Homo sapiens: one gene and its partners. The protein of the gene in region 3 purifies or fractionates together with the protein of the main gene of each other region. This does not show direct contact. Each region holds a gene or a part of one and is shown on either strand. Other genes may lie near its edges.

The links.
Region 1: the proteins of OTUD7B (region 3) and TNFRSF10A purify together in Homo sapiens (co-immunoprecipitation; one study listed by IntAct). This does not show direct contact.
Region 2: the proteins of OTUD7B (region 3) and FOXM1 purify together in Homo sapiens (affinity purification with western blotting, with the first as the bait; one study listed by BioGRID). This does not show direct contact.
Region 4: the proteins of OTUD7B (region 3) and ACAD9 purify together in Homo sapiens (affinity purification with mass spectrometry; one large-scale study listed by BioGRID and IntAct). This does not show direct contact.
Region 5: the proteins of OTUD7B (region 3) and NUP155 purify together in Homo sapiens (affinity purification with mass spectrometry; one large-scale study listed by BioGRID and IntAct). This does not show direct contact.
Region 6: the proteins of OTUD7B (region 3) and MAP3K14 purify together in Homo sapiens (affinity purification with western blotting; one study listed by BioGRID). This does not show direct contact.

What each region holds. Positions count from the first base shown.
Region 1 is NC_000008.11:23,201,103-23,204,602, forward strand, and holds part of TNFRSF10A (tumor necrosis factor receptor superfamily member 10A), read right to left. Parts: intron 1,660-3,500; coding exon 1,546-1,659; intron 818-1,545; coding exon 706-817; intron 1-705. UniProt on the Homo sapiens protein: Receptor for the cytotoxic ligand TNFSF10/TRAIL. The adapter molecule FADD recruits caspase-8 to the activated receptor.
Region 2 is NC_000012.12:2,867,175-2,870,674, forward strand, and holds part of FOXM1 (forkhead box protein M1), read right to left. Parts: intron 1,581-3,500; coding exon 1,389-1,580; coding exon of another isoform or gene 1,344-1,388; exon of another isoform or gene 1,040-1,343; intron 1-1,039. UniProt on the Homo sapiens protein: Transcription factor regulating the expression of cell cycle genes essential for DNA replication and mitosis. Plays a role in the control of cell proliferation. Also plays a role in DNA break repair, participating in the DNA damage checkpoint response.
Region 3 is NC_000001.11:150,000,727-150,004,226, forward strand, and holds part of OTUD7B (OTU domain-containing protein 7B), read right to left. Parts: intron 1-3,500. UniProt on the Homo sapiens protein: Negative regulator of the non-canonical NF-kappa-B pathway that acts by mediating deubiquitination of TRAF3, an inhibitor of the NF-kappa-B pathway, thereby acting as a negative regulator of B-cell responses.
Region 4 is NC_000003.12:128,907,120-128,910,619, reverse strand, and holds part of ACAD9 (complex I assembly factor ACAD9, mitochondrial), read right to left. Parts: intron 2,436-3,500; coding exon 2,356-2,435; intron 1,648-2,355; coding exon 1,521-1,647; intron 1,277-1,520; coding exon 1,199-1,276; intron 748-1,198; exon of another isoform or gene 600-747; coding exon 471-599; exon of another isoform or gene 357-470; coding exon of another isoform or gene 287-356; intron 1-286. UniProt on the Homo sapiens protein: As part of the MCIA complex, primarily participates in the assembly of the mitochondrial complex I and therefore plays a role in oxidative phosphorylation.
Region 5 is NC_000005.10:37,301,607-37,305,106, forward strand, and holds part of NUP155 (nuclear pore complex protein Nup155), read right to left. Parts: coding exon 3,451-3,500; intron 3,238-3,450; coding exon 3,133-3,237; intron 1,809-3,132; coding exon 1,654-1,808; intron 1,303-1,653; coding exon 1,173-1,302; intron 1-1,172.
Region 6 is NC_000017.11:45,286,021-45,289,520, forward strand, and holds part of MAP3K14 (mitogen-activated protein kinase kinase kinase 14), read right to left. Parts: intron 3,286-3,500; coding exon 3,216-3,285; intron 1,345-3,215; coding exon 1,134-1,344; intron 1,026-1,133; coding exon 411-1,025; intron 1-410.

The DNA of each region.
Region 1 (3,500 bases), on a different chromosome or scaffold from region 3:
CTGAGCCCCTTCCTCCAGTTAACCCACAGTACAAGTGAGCCCTCGCCCCCACCTGTCTGCTGGTTCCTCTCAATCACAGCAAACACTGGAGGACCAGAGAAGAGCAATTACTCTTTGCTTCCAAAACCAAAATAGGAAAAAGACAGGACTTATTGAGAAATCAGGGGCCAGGGGTGAGGCTGGCTGGGTGGGCTCAGGTCCTCATGGGAACTTGAAGGAGCTCCACCCATGGCCTTATTATGATTTTTGCGGGCTGTGGGCATTTCTGTCTTCTTGAATTAAAAGCAAATATTAAAAATTACATTTTATGACTCAATTTGTTTAAATATAAATATAACCCCAGCTGGATTCTATACCATTATTTTCTTATGATTTCAAGATAAAATATTTCATGTACCTCTGTTGTGGGCCCTAAGTCATGGCCTCCTGTGCCTAGTGAACAAGTCAGCCTGGCCAAGGGGACTAGTGCTGGGGAGGGGTGAGAAGGGGCCACTGCAGGGGACAGGGGTGGGGACAGGCAGATGGACCAGGAGGGGCAGGTTGCAGGCTCAGGAGACGCCACAGGCTCAGGGACACCTATGGGGGTGGAGGCACCATGGGGTCAGGGCTGATAGATACGGGTACAAGGAGACTCGGGTCTTTTTAGGGTTCCTTGCTTCTGTGGGTTCTTTGAGGCTGCTGGGAGCCCCTTGGCTGTTGTCTCACCCTCTGCTGCACTTCCGGCACATCTCAGCAGAATTGTCATTCCGGAAAGTTCCTGGTTTGCACTGACATGCTGTGTTCCTGGTCGTGGTGCAGGGACTTCTCTCTTCTTCATCTGATGACAGAGTACAAGGTTTTGGGAATGTGTTTCCCTGACGTGTCCCTTGACCTTTCCTCACCACCCCAACTCCCTCCCCCTCAGCTCAGCTCAACTCAGTTTGCCAAGGAGTTCTGAGGGCCAGATTCTGCACCAGCACACTCGGGCTCACACAGGACACCCACCCTTCAGCTGTCACCAACACTTGGAGTCATACAAAAGGACCATGATTCATTATTTATTACATCAGATTAGGGAAAAAGCACCATTTAGATCGCATGGTCAGTAGCAAAGGAGGCACATGGTATGTGAGAGAGTCTGCAAGAAGAGGAGCCCTTGGGTGACTTCCCAAAAACCCAGCCTGCTGAGGAAGAGGGAGGCGCCTGAGAAACTGAAGGCTGAGTGAGCCTGAGAACCTGCCAGGAGCACACAGCCCAGGGGGAGCGTGGCCCCAGAGCAGACCCGTACCACCGCTGAAACTCAGCCCTGTCCACTCAGCCAGGCCTTCTTTGTGCTGTAATGATGCCCCTACCCTCTTGGAGCTGATAGTTTGCACTACCAGGTGGCATGCATTATAAAAATGATTTCTTTCTGTTTCATTTTATGGACCTAAGACATAACCATGGAACAGGGTATGATGAAGACCAAGTTGGGCTGGAACTTGGTTCCCTGACTCACATTGGCTACCACTCCCACCTCACTGCCCCTCACTCCACCTCTGGACAAGAGGTCCACACATTCTGTACCTGATTTACAAGCTGTACATGGGAGGCAAGCAAACAAATTGTTGGAAGCATTGGTGTAACCCACACCCTCTGTGCACCGGTTACAGGCTCCAGGATGTTCTGATCTATGAGATCCTGGGAAGGGAGAGAAAAGCCAATGAATGAATTGCCACAGAGTTCCCAGAGGATCGTGGCGGTGGCTAGGAAACTCTTCTTTTGGCCATCAGTAGACCCCAGACAGAGAAATCCCATCTTCTTGGCTTGGTCTTGTCGTCAATTCTGCATCTATACACACCTCTGACTGGCGCTGCTGACAGAAATACAATACAAACCACATGCAAAATTCAAATTCTATGAGAGCCATATTAAAATAGTAAAAAGAGAATGAGGTCAAATTAATTTTAACAATGTACTTTTTGGACCTAAAATATCCAAAACATTAGCATTTCAACATGTAAACAAGATAAAACATTGAGATATTTTCTTTTATTTTGAATACTAAGTGTTCGAAACCCAGAGTGTATTTTTCACTCACTGCACATCTCAATTCAAAGTGGCTGTGTTTTAAGTGATTAATGGCCACATAGGCCTAGAGACCAGGGCAATGCCACCTGCATCCCTGGAAACTCACAAAAAGTCCTAATCCCTGCCCTCAGTGAGCTCTTGGTCAGTAGAAGGTACAAACAGGCGCAGAAACAATACAGCGATGAGGGGAAGGCTTCAGATACAGCCCATGCCACCTGCCATGGGAGGAAAATGGAAGGAAAAAGGGTCCTCCCTATACAGAGTCAAAGAATGATCCACAGAAAGAAGGCCTACCTCATGCTGCCCTGGATTGCAGAGGGTCTCCAGGCACTGAGGTGACAGCCTGCAGGAGCTGTCGCCAGCGGGAGCCCATGTCTGGAGGCTCGACCTTCACCTCCAGGGCTTCGCCCCTTCAGGTGACCTCACTCTCCCCTTTCAGTGCCCATTTATTTATCCCTCTCCTCTGATTCATATTTACTGATATTGAAAGATACTCTTAGAAAACCCAAACTGTGGAAAAAAAACTTCCTTGATAATGTGTTACGATGACGACACTACCAATTATAAAAATGTGGTTATTGAGTAATAGTGCTGGGGCAACTAAGGTTACTACTGAAAAATAATAAAGGCTTTTTTTTTTTTTTGAGATGGAGTCTCGCTCTCTCACCAGGCTGGAGTTCAGTGGCGTGATCTTGGCTCACTGTAACCTCCGCCTCCTGGGTTCAAGCGATTCTCCTGCCTCAGCCTCCCGAGTAGCTGGGACTACAGGAGCGTGCCACCACGCCTGGCTAATTTTTTGTATTTTTAGTAGAGACGGGGTTTCACTAGGTTTCACCAGGATGGTCTCGATCTCCTGACCTCATGATCCACCTGCCTCGGCCTCCCAAAGTGCTGGGATTACAGGAGTGAGCCACCGTGCCACTGTGAAGGAAAAACTTCCTTGCTGATGTGTTATGATGATGACACTATCGATGATAAAAATATGATTATTCAGTAATGGCGCTGGGGCAACTAAGGTTACTGCTGAAAAATAATAAAGCTTCTTGCTTATGCTCTCCCTATAAGGAAATAGAGACTAGGTCTATCAAGGTGTCAACTGTAAAGTATGAAATCACACAAGTACTGCATGAGAAATTTTTCTTACAAGTTTGGAGAGAGAAAGGACCTTCTCAGTCTCACGAGAAACTAAAAAGTTGCATAAAGTTAACTATATGAAAATTAGGAAGAAAACTGCATGGAAGAAATCTTGACTAAGATGAAAACAAAGTAGGAGAAAATACTTGCAATGAAAACCACACTGCAAAGCATAGTTTCCTTAACCTATAGGAATTCATACCAAAAAAATCTAGAAAGAACATCAACAAGAAAGTAGTAGACTTGAACAACACTATTAACAACTAGACTGGACAGATGTCTATAAAACACTCTACTCAATCAAAACAAGATACACA
Region 2 (3,500 bases), on a different chromosome or scaffold from region 3:
GAAATTAAGGCTGGGTGTGGTGGCTCACGCCTGTAATCACAGTGCACTGAGAGGCTAAGGCAGGAGGAGTGCTTGAGACTAGGAGTTCAGACCAGCCTGGGCAACATAGTAACCAGCCTGGGCAACTGTCTCTACAAAAAAAAAATTAGCGGACTGTGGTGGTGCACCTGTTATCCCAGCTACTTGGGATGTTGAGGAGGGAAGAGCTTGAGCCCAGGGGGCTGAGGCTGCACTCCAGCCCAGGCAACAGGGTGAGACCCTGTCTCAAAAAACAAACAAACAAAAAACTAGGAAAGTAAGCTGATGGAAGGGAGTAAAATTAAAAGTTCTACCATGAATTAGCCAGGCGTAGTGGCGGGCGCCTGTAGTCCCAGCTACTCGGGAAGCTGAGGCAGGAGAATGGCGTGAACCCAGGAGGCGGAGCTTGCAGTGAGCCGAGATCGCGCCACTGCACTCCAGCCTGGGTGACAGAGCGAGACTCCATCTCAAAAAAAAAAAAAACATAGTTCTACCATGAGGGGCCAGGTGTGGTGGCTCATGCCTGTAATCCCAGCACTTTGGGAGGTCGAGACGGGTGGATCATTTGAGGTTAGGAGTTCGAGACCAGCCTGACCAACATGGTGAAACACTGTCTCTACTAAAAATACAAAAAAATTAGCCAGGCGTGGTGGCGCATGCCTGTAGTCCCAGCTACTCGGGAGGCTGAGGCAGGAGAATCGCTTGAACCTTGGAGGCGGAGGAGGTTGCAGTGACCTGAGATCTGCCATTGCACTCCAGCCTGGGTGACAGAGCGAGACTCTGTCTCAAAAAAAAAAAAAAAAAAAAGAAAGAGTTCTACCATGAGGAAAACAAAGCACACTTGACTTGGAATTGAGCACCCGTCAGAAGACCTCATTTGTGGCTCTGACACCGACCAACTGCGTGAGCTATGTTGACTCACAGGCATCTCGGTCTTTCCATGAATGAAGTGAAAGGAAAACCCCTGCCCACTAGAAATGCTATGTGACGCTACAGGAGATGACATCTTGGGTCATGAGGCTCACAGACAGCATTTTTTTTTTTAATCAAGACATTTTCATAAAACTACTTAGCCACTCTAGCTGCTGGCATCTAGGACGGCTGTTGAGTGTAGCAGAAAAGTGGGCTTGAGTGCTACATTGAAGACCCTCCATGGACTTTAGGTAGTAACACATGAAGTAGTTAAGGAGCTCTTCTTAATGATTTTGCCTGGATTCAATAAGATTGAGTCACAATCTAAAAGATACATTTGTTTATCATTCTAGTGTCCTTTGCACTTAACTGCTGTCCCAGATACAAGTTGCAGTACAGCACTGGAGAGACTGTCAGGCTGGGCTGACCTTGATTTTGGTTGCTGTGGGACACATTACCTTCCAGCCTGGCTTGGCAATGTGCTTAAAGTAGGGAAAGTGGTCCTCAATCCACGTATAGATGTCTTTCAAAGTCATGCGCTTCCTCTCAGTGCTGTTGATGGCGAATTGTATCATGGCCATGTAAGAGTAGGGTGGCCGCTCAGACACAGAGTTCTGCCAGGACGCTGATGGTCTCGAAGGCTCCTCAACCTGAGGGTTATGACACAGGGAATGACATGAAAGAGTTCATGAGAAGCACCCCCAACCCAAGCCCTTGAAGAACATCTAGAGAAACCTTTATCCCATAGGACGGTCTAGAAACAAACTCATCTGAGACCACTATCTCATAGAATAAAATTTTAGAGTTGGGAAGAATCTTGGAGATGATCTAGCCTAGACCCTAGCCAATAAGAAACTGGTTTTGTCATCCATCATTTTGTTGAATTTGGAGAAAATCCAGTCCCTTCCAGTTGAAATTTCTTAGGAAAGTTTGAGTATGTACTTTGATTCTCAAAGCATTGATGTTACACTAAAACCACGCCCGTTTTTCAGACTTTTGGGTCTAGAAACCTAGGTCTTAGTCCCATTTCTGTTCCTGATGTGCTGTGAATAAACGCATCTCATTTCAATGTTTGTATGAGAGAAACATTCTCAAGACTATGAGTCAGACAATGTCTGCAAAGCACACAGTTAGCTAAGTTTTAGGCAAAGAGCTGATCAATCACATTTCTTTTTCTTTTTTTGAGACAGGGTCTCACTGTGTCACCCAGGATAGCGTGCAGTGGCTGGATCACAGCTCACTGCAGCCTTGACCTTCCCAGGCTCAGGTGATCCTCCTGTCTCAGCCTCCAAGTAGCTGGGACTACAGGCATACACCACCACGCCCAGCTAATTTTTTTTTTTTTTTTGAGATGGAGTTTCACTCTTGTTGCCCAGGCTGGAGTACAATGGTACGATCTCGGCTCACTGCAACCTCTGCCTCCTGGGTTCAAGCGATTCTCCTGCTGCAGCCTCCCAAGTAGCTGAGATTACAGGTGCCTGCCACCACGCCCAGCTACTTTTTTTGTATTTTTAGTAGAGATGGGGTTTACCATATTGGCCAGGCTAGTCTCGAACTCCTGACCTCAGGTGATCCACCCACCTTGGCCTCCCAGAGTGATGGGATTACAGGCATGAGCCATTGCGCCTGGCGATTTTTTTTTTTTTTTTCGTATTTTTAGTAGTAGAGACCAGGATTTTGCTATGTTGCCCAGGCTGGCCTAGAACTTACGGGCTCAAGCAATCTGCCCACCTTGGCCTCCCAAAGTGCTGGGATTACAATTGTCAGCCGCTATGCCCGGTCTCATTCACATTTTTAAAATTGGAGATATTACTTTCTAAAGTACACAAATTTTATGTATATAGCACAATTAATATTTACTTACATATACACGCATGTAAATTTTCACTTTTTTTTTTTTTTTGAGACAGAGTTTCACTTTTGTTGCCCAGGTTGGAGTGTAATGGCACGATCTTGGCTCACCGCAAGCTCTGCCTCCTGGGTTCAAGTGATTCTCCTGCCTCAGCCTCCCGAGTAGCTGGGATTATAGGCATGTACTACTGCACCCAGCTAATTTTGTATTGCTAGTAGAGGCGGGGTCAGGCTGGTCTGGAACTCCCGACGTCAGGTGATCCACTCACCTTGGCCTCCCAAAGTGCTGTGATTACAAGCATGAGTTATCGCGCCTGGCCAAATTTTCACTTTTAAAGATTGTTGAGCTGGAGGCTATGATCCTAAGCGATTTAATGCAGGAACAGAAAACCAAATATTGCATGTTCTCACTTATAAGTAGGAACTAGGCTGGGTACGGTGGCTCACGCCTGTAATCCCAACACTTTGGGAGGCTGAGGCGGGTGGATGACGAGGTCAAGAGATTGAGACCATCCTGGCCACCATGGTGAAACCCCATCTCTACTAAAAATAAAAAAATTAGCCGGGCGTGGTGGCGGGCGCCTATAGTCCCAGCTACTCGGGAGGCTGAGGCAGGAGAATCACTTGAACCTGGGATGCAGAGGTTTCAGTGAGCAGAGATTGTGCCACTGCACTCCAGCCTGGCAACAAAGAGAGAATCCGTCTCAAAAAGAAAAAAA
Region 3 (3,500 bases):
CCAGCACTTTAGGAGGCCAATGTGGGCAGATCACTTGAGGTCAGGAGTTCAAGACCAGCCTGGTCAATAGGGCAAAACTCCGTCTCTACTAAAAATACAAAAATTACCTGGGCACTGTGGCACGCACCTGTAATCCCAGCTGCTCGGGAGGCTGAGGCAAGAGAATCGCTTGAACCCGGGAGGCAGAGGTTGCAGTGAGCAGAGATCGTGCCACTGCACTCCAGCCTGGGTGACAGAGCAAGACTCCATCTCAAAAATAAATAAATAATAAATAAATAAATAAATAAAGATGTGGCGGGGCAGAGGAAGTATAAAACATGAAGGAATGAACACATCAATTCAGGCCAGTAGTCATTTCTTGAGAAAGAGGAAGGAGGAAAGGATGCAGGGTGGAACTTCAGCTATATCTATAACATTTAATATTTTAAAGGGAGTAAGACATCTAACAAATATGACAAAATGTTAATGTCCATCAAGTTGGGGTTGTAGACTCAAAATTGCCTGAGTTTTTCCCCTGAACTTTTCTAAATGTTTGAAATATCTCATTATGCAAAATTGTAAAATTAATAAAGGGCCAGGTGATTTGATGAATAGAGGAGTCAACACAAAAACAGTCAGGAGCAGAATGGTTTCCCAAAACTATAAGGAGATATCTGACTTGTTCAGTTTTAGACTGAAGAGGAGCCTTCACATCCCTCAAACAGCAGCGCTTAGAACAGGGTAGAGTGAGGACTGACAAAAATGGACAAGAAGGTTTATTGCCATCTCAAATCAGATAGCAGAGGGGAGTGAAAAACCACCTTCCCACATAATTTAAATGCTAGTGTAACCAAGTTATCTCCCCTAAAACAGCCAAGAAAGCTTCCAGTTACACAGGAATTCAGATAAGTACTCACTGTGAGTAGCTATTCTGTGCCTCCTTTCTACCCACCCCTTCCTTCTCCCAAATACTCACAAACAAAAACAAAATGTACCCTTGCCCACTTGAGAAAGAATTAAGACTTGGCAGCTCTGCTTAAGTGGACAGCTTCCAAACCAAGGCCCTTCTCTGGGGAAGATGCTGACAGAGCCCAGAGAAAAGAATTTAAAAATCACAACTCAGACAAGTTTTGAGGAAGGCCTATCAATGGAAGGTATCCATCCTTCCACACGTCCTTAAGTCCCAATTTCTCCCAGGGGAATCTAAGGACTTAGAGGATGCCCTCTACCCTGTTCTGTTCTCCTCCAGCAAAAGTGACTAAAACACAAAATCCAAACTCTCACTTAGCACTTTAAAACCAAACAATTTCCCTCCACAAAAATCCAATGAAAATGAAAATACAGGGAAGATGCAGAATCTGAGTATTTAATATTTTAAAGAGAGTAAGACATCTAAAACAAATATGACAAAATGTTAATGTCCATCAAATTTGGGATGTAGGCTCAAAATTGTTTCTGTTTGGGTTTTTTCCCTGAACTTTTCTAAATTTTGTTTAGATATTCTTTTTTTTTTAGATAAATATACTTTTAATCAGTGCCCAATTTATCATAGCTTATTTAACAAGTTTCAGTGGCACAAATAAAACTAAGTTTAAAAGAAAACAACTTAAAGGGAGCTTAGTGGCAGAGATAAAGACATGCAACAAAACAAATACCTTGACATTCTTCTACATCTGAATCACTACAGCTGAAAAATCCTAACACCTCATTCAGCCCAGTCCAGGGCACCGAACTGCCCCTCTTCCCAATGGTACTCTCAGGGAACATCTTTCTCAGTCAGACCTAGGAAAATACCTCTATTCACTTTGGACTGGTTAAAAAAAGACGGTAGAATGGAATGATGTTAAGTCCTTCTATCTGCTAGTACAATGCAATGTGGCAGAATGACACAAACACTGAAATGGGACTTGGGAGAGAAGAGAGAGGTGAATTCACCTTTATTAATCACCTAGTACATGCTGAAGACTGAATTCTAGACTAAGCTATCACAGAACCACTTCTGTGATCCTGAGTAAACCTCAGGTATTCTATTTGAAAATGAATGAGGAAAACTAAGAAAGCATCGCAGCCCCGCCAGTTGTCTGATTCCATGAATCTGTAAATATGATCACTCTCAATAAATGTGTTCAGTATAATGAAGTTATTGAAAGGAATTCTGCTTTCTCCATCTCCAATCCACCCTACACACCACTGACATAATCTTTCTAGGATGTGAAACGTATTAAATGGCTCCTGATATACTGCAGTATAAGATAAAGCTCCAGGCCGGGCGTGGTGGCTCTCGCCTGTAATCCCAGCACTTTGGGAGGCCGAGGCGGGCGGATCGCGAGGTCAGGAGATCAAGACCATCCTGGCTAACATGGTGAAACCCCGCCTCCACTAAAAATACAAAAAATTAGCCGGGCATGGTGGCGGGCGCCTGTAGTCCCAGCAACTCGGGAGGCTGAGGCAGGAGAATGGCGTGAACCCGGGAGGCGGAGCTTGCAGTGAGCTGAGATTGTGCCACTGCACTCCAGCCTGGGTGACAGAGCAAGACTCTGTCTCAAAAAAAAAAAAAAAAAGATAAAAACTCTGTATGATCCAGCGTTGCCTACCTCTTCAGCCTGCCCTCCATCCCATCCTCCAGCCATAATGATTAAGTAAAAGTTACCTGAAGAAGTCTGGCCTTCATTCCTTTAAGCTTTTGTTCATGGTATTTTCTCAGACTGGAATGTAATTCTTGTCATCTGTAGAGTATATCCTTAATTCATCTTTCAAGACTCAGCTCAAATGCTAACTCCTCAGGGAGGCTCTTTCCAACCTCAGCATGCCCAAGGCAGAACTGACCCTTGGGCTCCCACTCTCCCTGCTGCATACTTCTATCACAGCATCTATCACACTTCATTCTATCTATATATTTACATATCTGTCTCCTCCCACTAGACCCATACGCTCCTCGTGGGTTCCTTGTCTCCCTTACCTCCATCTCAGTGCCTAGGATGGTGTTTACAAGATAGGAGACATGTTTAGGTTTAGACGTGTTTAGGTTTATCAGTACCATTTTCTTTGCCCTTCTGCTCTTTCCCTAAACTTTAGTCCTCAGAGAGCTTATTAATTCTCTTGGCTACAGCTACCACATCTAGGCCATGAATTGCAAAACTGCATTTCCAAACCTACCCCCATCTTTACTCCAGCTCACACCCAGGACAGCCTTCATTTGGACATTTCATTGCCACTTTAAATCCAACACATCGCAAATTATACTCATCATATTTCCCCAAAATGAGGAAAGCTTCCTAACTTCTTTATTTCACTCAATGTCTCAGACACCCAGGCACAACGTGTCACAGTTGTAGTTGACTCATCACCCTTCTTCATCTCCCACATCCACCCCTCATTAATTTCCATTTTTCCTTCACAGTCTCTTTTTCACTCTTTCCTCTCCTTAGCCTACCCTCCACAACTCTAACTCGGGCCTCATCACTTCACACACCCCCAGTGTCAATCTCCATTCCCTCCCAGCCAACCTGTGTATTAGTATC
Region 4 (3,500 bases), on a different chromosome or scaffold from region 3:
GAGTCACCCCGTCTTGGGTTCTAATTCCAGCCCTGATCCAACAGCCTTTCCCCAACAGCAAGTGACTCAACATCTCTGACCCTGTTTCCTCTGAAAGGCAGATGTCACAATCCTGGTATCTGCAGGTGCTCTGGAAAGTGCAGGCAGAGATCCTGGTATACAGTGGGTCCTCAGAGACTGCACCCGCCTCCCTCCAGCACAGCGGGCAATGTGCAGGGTCTGTCCCTTGCTGGGGGTAGGGGCACTGGGATCAGGAACCCCTGTCACTCACCCCCTCTTCTCTCAGTCAGGAAGAAGAAAGGGAACAGCCCCATCTCCTGAGCAGCACAGACCCTCCCACGGCCACCGCATGGTGAACCTGCACAGCCTCCCCCACACCCGACCACACCCTCCTCAACAATCAACTTCATTAAAGTGCAGCAGGACAGATGGCAGCAGCCAGGCCCTGTGTGAGGCTGGGCTGGGCTCACCTCGTGGTCGTGGTTGCGGAGCCCAATGCGGATGGAGCGGCTGGCCCGCGACAGCACGGCCGTCATGCCATACAGGTTGATGAGGATGTTGGCCACCCGCTTCAGTACCAGCTGCTCCTCCATGATGGTCTGGGATCACAGAGGCTCCAAGTGGGGACTCACTACCTAGACCAGTCCCCCACATGGTCCCTCCCTGGGCTGCATCTTTGCCTGTCTTAGTCTCCTGTGTTCCTTGAGAAAGTGGAGTCAATAACACCTTTCTCTTCAGGTTGTGGGAGAACGGCTCCCAGCCACCTTCTGTTTTCCCTTCTCTTTGAGCTCTAGATTCAGGGAGGGGTTAAGGCAAGACCAGGTCCCAGAAGCTTGGCTGAGACCAGAAGCCAGTGCTTACTGTGCTACTGCCACCTTCAGCAGCAAGGGCCCCACCAATCAGGTCCCTAGATTCAGGCCCCAGGTGGAGCTGCCCTCCCGATTCTAGGGAGCCTCTCTACCTGAAAGGTGCACAGAAAAACACTGCAGAAAACTCACCCAGCAAGGGTACCCATCCGAGTAGCTAAGTGGGCCCCAGGCTGACAAAGTCAGCCTGACCTCACCACCCCATCCCTCCAGGGTGATCAACATTTCTGTTCTAGGCCTGGTCCCAAAGGATGCTTGACAAAAAGTAGTCTCATGAATGCTGGCCAAATTGGAGGACCGCTTGCGACCCAGGCCTGGGAGGGCCTGGTTACCTTGCCAAAGCGGAGCAGCAGTGTCTCCACGGTCCGGCCGAAGCAGTAGGTGTTCTCCTCAAACTTGTTGGCACTGTCCTATTAACCAAGACAGGACTCAGTTCAGCACCTCATCCCTACAGTGCCCTGTCCTGTCTCACAGCCCGGGTACCAGGCAGAGATGCCCCATCTGGGGGAAGCAATCCAGGGTGTCATGGACTAGCTGGTGTTCCCCAACTTCCCCTGGAGAAGCCCAGACCCCCCACAGTGAGATCTTTTCTGCCACAAGGAGATCTGGCAGGAGGGCATTGAAATAGGGGGTATGCCTGTTAGGCCCACTCACCGCAAGACTGGGGTGCACAACTCCATGGTTGCCTGTCAGCCCCAGGTCCACAGTTCGGCCCAGGGAGTCCCGAAGCCTCCGGCCAACGGTATCCATGACTGTGCTCACTTTGGCCTGTTTAAGCTCACTGCAGAAAGTCCATGGTCCTGTGACTGGAGGCCTCGCTGCTGGCGCTCACTGTCCAGCAACATGGCCCATTCGGCACCCAGAAGCTCCGTGCCCCCCTCTGGCCTGGGTATGCTGGGCCCCTGGCTACAGCCTGAACCCCCCCAAACCCACCACCTGCCAGAGAGCAGCCAGTCTCCTCAGGGGAGCCACACATATGCTCCCCCATGAGGGGTGGAGTCACAGCCAGCTTCCCAGCAGCTGTCTCCTGTGAAGGAGACAAAATGCTACTAGCAACCTGTACTTGGCCTCCAGCAGTGATTTTGGATTACTGTGCCCCTAGGGTGGGGGTGGAGGGGAGCATGAGGGGAAGAAGGGCAGAGAAGAGAAACACTGGCTTATGTTGGCTGTGAGGCCTGGCACCTTTAAAGGGACACCTCTCATTCTTCAGGTTCTGAAAAACCAGCTGCCTCTAGTGTGAGGGACCAGATGGGGGATACGGTATTTATGCTGAAGCTGTAGGGTGCTGTGGCCATAAGGGCAGGGCAGCGAGGGCTTCCCTGGGCAGCAAGCCCCCCACTACCACAGGGGAAGGTCCCCTCCACAAGGCTGCGCCACACCCCCATGCCCCCACTCCAGGTCAAGGCAGCTCTTTCCTCCCACTGCCCTGGACTGGCCCCTGCTGGGCAGGTATGGGACCTGAGAAGCACACGGTGACAATGGCACCTACTGGATCCTGGTAGTCAGGATGCGGCCGGCATGCTGCAGACCCGTCAGGGCGATGTACATCCGGAGAATCTCATTGGTTCCCTGTGGTCAGTAGTGTAGAGGTCAAAGGCTGCCCCCCGGCCAGGCAGCCATGGTAGTGCCACGTGTGCTGGGTAGAGCCGGCCACTGCCTGCTTGCCCATTGCCACAAAAGCCACTGCTCCTGAAGTAGCTGGGAGCAGGGCTCTGGCCAGGGCTCAGGGAGTGCACAGGGATGAGGAGGGAGGTGACCAGATGGCCATGAGCTCCCACTGGGACCCCCCCACCTCTCCGTGACCAGCCTCACGTGTGTCAAGCCTTTCTCCAAGTCTCCAGGTCCTCTGTAAAATGGAAACCAGCTTTCCCCGGGTGGTGAGGGGTGCTGATGCCTGGGGCTCAGCCAGTGCCAGACAGACATTGCTGGCTCCAGGTGGAGGCCAGATTCCTCACGGAAGCCAGAAATTGCTGAGTGGCAGCTAGAACCTCCTCAGTGCCAGGTGTCAACACACCCAGAGGGCCACATGCTCCCCACTCCCCCAACCCATGATTCTGATCAGTGAGAGGCCAGTGGGCTTCTGCCCACTCTGCACAATGGTACTGTGTGTCAGGTGCAGGGGCCTGACCCAGGCTACACAGCCAGCACTAGGGACTGAGGACTGTCCCCTGCAGTCAGGCTGACATCACGGACAGCAGGACTCCCTACAGGAAAAGGGGGGACTGCAGGGGCCTCCTGGCAGGACCACCCAGCTCCGAGCAGGCTCCAGACAGGAGCTCTCACCCTACATCGAGAGCCCTGTGTTCTTCCAAGGCCTTGAGGGCTTCCTGAACCCTGCTGACCACCCCAGCCCTGGAGAACCCCAACCCTCCCAGGCTAAGGGAAGGGCCTTTGGAGAAGACCCTTTGCAGGGCTGAGACCACTCCAGTGCCCTCAGGCTGGCCCTTGCCCCGTATGTCCACTGCAACAGTGGAGATGGCTGGAACCCAATGGGTAGGCCAGGAACAAAAGCAGCCAAGGAGGCCTCCCACTGGGCAGGACGGCCCAGGAGACAAGACTACACTCCCAGAGGCTGATGATGCCTCTCATCACCAGACCTGCTGCTCAGGCCCAAACCCTCTCCCTGTCTCAGGC
Region 5 (3,500 bases), on a different chromosome or scaffold from region 3:
TTGAAAGAACGGATCCTACTATCTGACTTTAAGTTTGCTAAAATAATGTATAAATGAAGATTTCTATCATAATAGGCTAATATTATCATAACAGACATCAACTAAACATAATAGATTTCACAGGAAGTATACTGTGGCAGACTCCTTGCTGCCCAATACTTATACCTTCCAAGACTGTAGCCAAATGGTTAGACTATACAGCTCAGCCTCCTCTGTAGGGGAGGTATGGCCATACAACCAAGTTCTCTTCAAAGGAATGTGAGTAGAAGTAGTGTGTCATGTCAGGGCTATAGTTTTTAAGACAGTGAATGTGTTCTTTCTTTTCCTTCCACCCTCTGCTGAAGATAAAGCAGAGGCCCTAGGGAATGGTAGTGCCAGAAAATAGAACTTGGGTTCCTAAATCAACCACACGGAGGAAAGCCAGCTGCCAATCAGGAAGACTCACCTTGGATTTTTGTGAATAAGAAACAAACTTTTGTATTTGGACGATGGTATGTTTTTGATTCTCTTAGTTAGGGAATTTTAGCCTACTCTACTTCATACATCTACTTATTTGCTTCCAAAATAAATGGTGAATGTGATGTAATCCACTTGCTGTTGAAACAGTTGGGAAAAACATTTATTTTTTATTATTATTATTTTTTGAGACAGAGTCTCAGTCTGTCTCCCAGGCTGGAATGCAGTGGTGCAATCTCAGCTCACTGCAACCTCCGCTTCCTGGGTTCAAGCAATTCTCCTGCCTCAGTCTCCCAAGTAGCTGGGACTACAGGTGTGTGCCACCACCCCCGGCTAATTCTTGTATTTTTTTAAGTAGAGACAAGGTTTCGCCATATTGGCCAGGCTGGTCTCGAACTTCTGACCTCATGATCTGGCTGCCTCGGCCTCCCAAAGTGCTGGGATTACAGGCGTGAGCCACTGCACCCAGCTGGGAAAAACCTTTCGAAGTGCCAAAGAGAAAACTTCTAAATTATAGCAATGTTTTTATGACCCAAGTGCATCCTTAAAAATCTTTAAGATTTATATCTAAACATAAAAATAAATATAAACAGACAAAAGCAACTAGAATAATAATGACTTCTCAGACCTATTACTTACCAAGGGAAGAATGGAATGTGGAATAACTATGTGGCTAGTACTCAATGTGGACACAGCTTAAGATCTTTAGCACTTACCTCCATTTTTTCTTCTAATTCATGAAGAAATTCACCATCGGCAGCTATTGATGAAATGGCAGTGGAACTTTTGGCACTAAGAATGGCTCGAGCAATGTACTCTAGTCGCTGCTGAAGTGAAATTTCTGTGCTAGAAGGGAAAACGCTTATTTTTAGTTACACAATTTCTTAAGGATTGATGATACAAATACGTCAATTAGTATGTACTGTTTCATACCAAACACACATAAAAAGCCATCTGAAACTTGAAAAAAAATCATTAGATTTAAAAAAAAATCTATTTTAGATTTCTCATAAGAGAGATCCACAATTTTAGACAACACATAAAGAAATACATTTATGACTAAAAAGTAACATCCTATTTAAAAAATTTAGGTCAGTATATTAAAACTTAGATTCTTCTAAAATTAAAGAAAACTGAATGTAAGTACATATAGCTCAGTTTTGAATCATTCTTCACAATAAGAATATTATGCCATACCTATGCATGTCAGCCAGTCTGGACAGTACACGAGCAGCATTACTGAAACTTCTGTTCTTCTCGTAATACCGCCAGAGTAAATCCATATAACGAACTCTGTTTTGATCAACTTTGGCCATTCGGACTAGATGTGGCTCCAGAAATGGAGAAGCAACCTAGAAATTATATAGTTATTCAGAAAAATTTTCTAACCACCTACAGATAATGTTCCTGATAAGGAAAATATAGTATTTTTAAGTCAACTACAACTTTGCCTTGTTTTATGAAAACAAGCAAAATTATAATCCAATACTAACAGATAAAAGAGAGGGCAAATTTTCTTATTATAAACAATTTTTGTTTTACCACAGTTAGCATAAGAGTTTCCAAAACAATTCTATTAGGTTGATAACAATAATTTAGTAGGCTGGGCATGGCGACTCATGTCTGTAATCCTCGCACTTTGGGAGGCCGAGGTGGGCAGATCATGTGAGCTCAGGAGTTTGAGACCAGCCTGGGCAATATATGGCAAAACCTCGTCTCTACAAAAAAATTAGCTGGGTGTGGTGGTGCGGGCCTATAGTTCTAGTTACTCAGGAGGGTTAGGTGTGAGGATCACCTGAGCCTAGGGAGGTCAAGGCTACAGTGAGCCATTATCGTGCCATTGCACTGCACTTCAGCCTAAGCTACAGATTGAGACCCTGCCTCAAAAAAGAAAAGGAAATTTGGCCGGGCACAGTGGTTCATGCCTGTAATCCCAGCACTTCGGGAAGCTGAGGTGGGCAGATCACCTGAGCTCAGGAGTTTGAGACCAGCCTGGCCAACATGGTAAAACCCCGTCTCTACTAAAAAGATATAAAAATTAGCTGTGCGTGGTGGCGGGTGCCTGTAATCCCAGCTACTTGGGAGGCTGAAGCAGGAGGATTGCTGGAACCCGGGAGGCGGAGGTTGCAGTGAGCTGAGATCATGCCACTGCACTCCAGCCTGGGCAACAGAGCCAGACTCCATCTCAAAAAAAAAAAAAAAAAAAAAAAAGGGAAATTTACTATAAAATTACAAATTTTTAAATAAACTTTGATAACACAGCTATTGATTCCTAGACATTGAGCTCAAAGGCATTATTGAAATTATCAAATGCTATGTATTCATTAAACAGATTGAGGAACACTGAAACTTAGGGTAGGTAAAAGGACATATCTGAAGTCACAGTGACTTAACAGCAGAGTTAAGATAAGATGACCTACAGGACTCATATTCATAATCCAGTGATTTCTACCCCGCAATACAAACTATCCCAATCAGCTTCGAATTAACAAGAAAATTGGAGCAGTAGCCTACTTTGCCCCTTAGGAAAAGATACTGCATTACTCAGCTTTATACTAACATCTAATAGCAGGCATGGGATGAGAAACTGAATTTTTTACATCTATATATGTGCTTAAATCATTGAGTTATGCTCCTTAAGAATAATTAACACAACTGCAATAAAAAAAGATTTACCTGTAGCAGCTTATCTGCAAGGTCGACTTGTATTAGCCAATTATAAAGGGCAATACTAAAGAGCTCATCCTTGGATCGCTGTGACAATTTAAGCATTTGTTCAAACTAAAATAAAGAAAATAGTAAAAATTAGCAGTTAAAGGCTCTGTTTCTGGGCATCACAACCCTTTAGCCCTATAAACTCCAGTAAGAAATCAAGAATCCTTACATGATAACTTCTAAGAACTACCACCTTTCCCCAAGATGACTGTGCTACCATTACCATGGAGAACTTCTAAACAGTGTATTCTCAGAATGAAAATATACTATGTCCCTTACATGATGTCCTGCTTCTTCATTACTCAGCATATTTGGATCAGATGACAACA
Region 6 (3,500 bases), on a different chromosome or scaffold from region 3:
GATAAAATCATTTAAAGTTATAAAATTATTTGGGAAGTTAACAAGAGGAAAAAGGGAAGGAGGTGGGTGGTGAAAACAGGTCCCATCCTCATCTTCCGTCTCTGGGGGCCATGATAACATCTCCAGTGGCTCCTGGCTGATTCCCCTTGTCCTCAGCATGTGTACTATTAATGCAGTGCCCACATTCAGCAAGCAGGAGGTGACCAACCAGAAGAACTCAGAACAGAAGACGCTAAAAAGGCTGTGAGAAGTGAGATTGGCGGAATAAGAGATGATACTTTTCATCCACAATGAGCACTGTCCTACTGTTTGATTTGTCACCACAGGCAAGAGTGACTCTGATAAAGAGAGAAAAGCATCCCCCAGGTTGCTGGTAGAGGGACATATACAGGTGCCGGGGGATTAGTTACCTCAGTGAGCAGGACACCCTCGTTGTCCTCAGTTTTGGGGCTGGGCTCCCGGGATCTGGAGCCCCTTGCTGCCCAGGTCTTGGCCAGGCTGGTCAGGCTGTGGGCCTGGCCTGAGCTCACGCTGCCTTGCAGAGCATGCACTAGGTATTCCTCCACAGAAAACTTCTCATGGGCACCACGAGACAGGCAGCTGGGCTCCAGGTGTGGGCCAGGCAGGGGCTTTGGACTGTCTACACAGGCCAGTTTGCTCAGGTGTGGGTCAGGCAAGGGTTTCTGGCTGTCTACACAGGCCAGTTTGCCCAGGAAGGACTCCAGAGGGTGAGGTTTCCAGGGCTGGAGAGGGTGGAATGGGAAGGGATGAGGCAGTCTGCTATAGGGGAAGGGGTGCGTGGGCAGGGGCAGGGGGCCTCCGTCCTGGGGGTGGTGCAGTTTCCACACGTGGTTCAGACATTGCAAGGGGCTGATCAGTTTGTGGAGTTCTGATCGAGGCAGAGCCGGCCGTAGGCCCTCGCCAAGCTGCTTAAAACAGAGTTGCCCAAGGCCTGGTTCCTTCAGAGGCTTGGTGAACTGCGGGGTGTTTCTAACATATGGGGCGCCGAGTGGAGACTCATCCTCCTGCGGGGGGAAACACAGCTATCAGCACAGAGGGCCAGGGCCCAGGGACAGGCTCCAATTTCAAGGCCCCATGAACCTGGGGTCTGGGCAGTGGGTGGAGGGTCTCACCTGCACTGGGATGGTGCAGCTCTCCTGCTCAGGGGTCCTGGGGAGGGGTTTGGCCAAGGCCACTCCTGCATGAGCCAGGGACTTTGAGCTCTTCTTCTTCCGTTTCTTCCGGGCTTTGCTGCGACGCTTTCCCTTCCAACACACACGGGCCATTTTGCCCTCTGTAGCATGGGCCACATTGTTGGGGATCTGATCAAGACTCTCGGACTGGCTGTCACAAAAGGGACAGATTTGCATATTGAGCACGAGGAAGCAGGAAGATGGACTGGTCCAGACACTTGTATCTGGACTCCTGCAGATCCAAGGTCAAATCCCAGGTTGCCATTCCTTGTGTGAATGCGGCAAGGTTTCTAAATCCCAAGGAACCTGTTTTCTCACTTATCTCACTTATAAAATGGGTTTGGTATTTTCTGCCATACAGGGTGGAAATGAAGTTTCAATAATTTAGTTCATTTAAAAAGCCCAGCTCAGTGTCTGGCCCCAAGGCAAGCTGCCGAGAAGCTGTGCTTGTTACTATGGTGATGGGGTACAGACTCAGCACTTCTTGGGGAGAGTCAGGGGAGCAGACACGGTTCGCTCACTGCTCTCCAAGGTGAGCTGCCCCTGGAGAGTTCCTAGGAGGGGGCCACGCTCATGGCAGGCCTCTCAGCTCTGACTGAGCAGAGCTTGTTTCTGTTGCCTCCGGATGGAGGAACAGGTAAGGCTGGTCACCTCCATTCTCACAGTTCCTGGGGGTCCCTGGCTGCTGTTGAAGGTGAACAGCCTGGGCTGCTGCCTGGTACTGGGGAGCCTGCCCTTCTCTGCTGGCCTCGGGGCTCATCACTGCCATGGCTCTAACTGGACTGGGATCCCTGCCAAGTATTAAAGGACCCGGCAACAGATGGGTTGCTGCAGAACAGCTGTGGAGCAGATCATGGCCTCAGCCACCCTCCCTTGGCCTCATCTTCTGCCCCCATGGAGAAGGCAGACTCATGGCAGTCCTGGGGACCACTGGAGGCCTACAGGCTTCTCTTGGACAGCTGAAAGAAGTGTGTCTATCAGAGGCTCCTACCCTGGGCCAAAAGGCACCCAGGACAGCAGAAGGAATCCCACCAAACTGAGCATTTCTTGGTTCCAAGGCAGCCAGCTGCCCTCCCCACAATCTTATCACTAGCAGGTTCCAAACTCCAATGATACAAAACCTGCCTGGTGATAGGGGAAGGAGCTGTTTCTAGCTTGAACTCTTGTTTTTTTTTTTTTTTTTGAGACAGAATCTTACTCTGTCACCAGGCTGGAGTGCAGTGGCACAATCTCGGCTCACTGCAACCTTCGACTCCTGGATTCAAGCGATTCTCCTGCCTCAGCCTCCTGAGTAGCTGAGGTTACAGGCATGCGCTACCATGCCCAGGGAATTTTTGTATTTTTAGCAGAGACGGGGTTTCACCATGTTGGCCAGGATGGTCTCGATCTCCTGACCTCGTGATCCACCTGCCTCGGCCTCAGAAAGTGCTGGGATTATAGGTGAGAGCCATTGTGCCCAGCACTTGAACTCTTGTTTCAAAAAATCATCTGTGGGGGAATGCAGAGCCTGGGAACAGACTCAGCCCCACCCTGGCTTCCTTTCTACCGGGCCACCAAGTCTATCTGTCCCCTCCTTTTCTACCGCCCGCATCCCTACTCGGTGCATCTCCCAGGAGAAAAGGCACCAGCAGGTTTCTCCCATAGAGGACAGTGGAAGGCCCCCCCCACCAACCCGGCCTGCGCTCACGGTCACGCAAGAGTGGGAAGCAGCTTCTGTTCCCAGCACCCTCCCTGTTGATGGGAAACGAGGGGGTGCATTAAGGACTCTGAGGAGAATAAAAATAAAATGTCAAGTTGATGTGGCCCAGAGGCAGTCAGCCACAAGCTGTGAAAAGCCTTTGAAAAGCTTATTTGGCTGAGAGAGCGGCTCAGCCAGGAAAGCCTGGGTGAGTTCCAGGAGCTGAACCACAGGTGCTGAGGGAGGGAGCCCGGGGTCAGCAGGAGCGGCCCAGGCAAGTGCTGGGGACGAGGGCGCTGGGTCCAGTCCCCACCTTCCCACTCAGGCTTGTCTCCCCTGCTTACCTGTACTGTTTGGACCCAGCGATGAAAATGCGTTCTGAAAAGGTGGGGCTGAACTCTTGGCTATTCTCACCTAAAGCAAAAGGAGTTGGATTAGCAGAGAGGAGAAAAAATAGGAATTTAGCACTTAGGGGAGAGACATTTTACAGAGATCCCCTCTGGCGCCTCTCCTTCCCCTCCTTTCCAGACAACCCCTGTCTGGCAGTCACCTCCCCACCAATGCCTCCTTCCCGCACTGTCTCTCCCCAGCTTCTCAGCTTACTGGTCAAGAGCAGACCACGGCCTCAG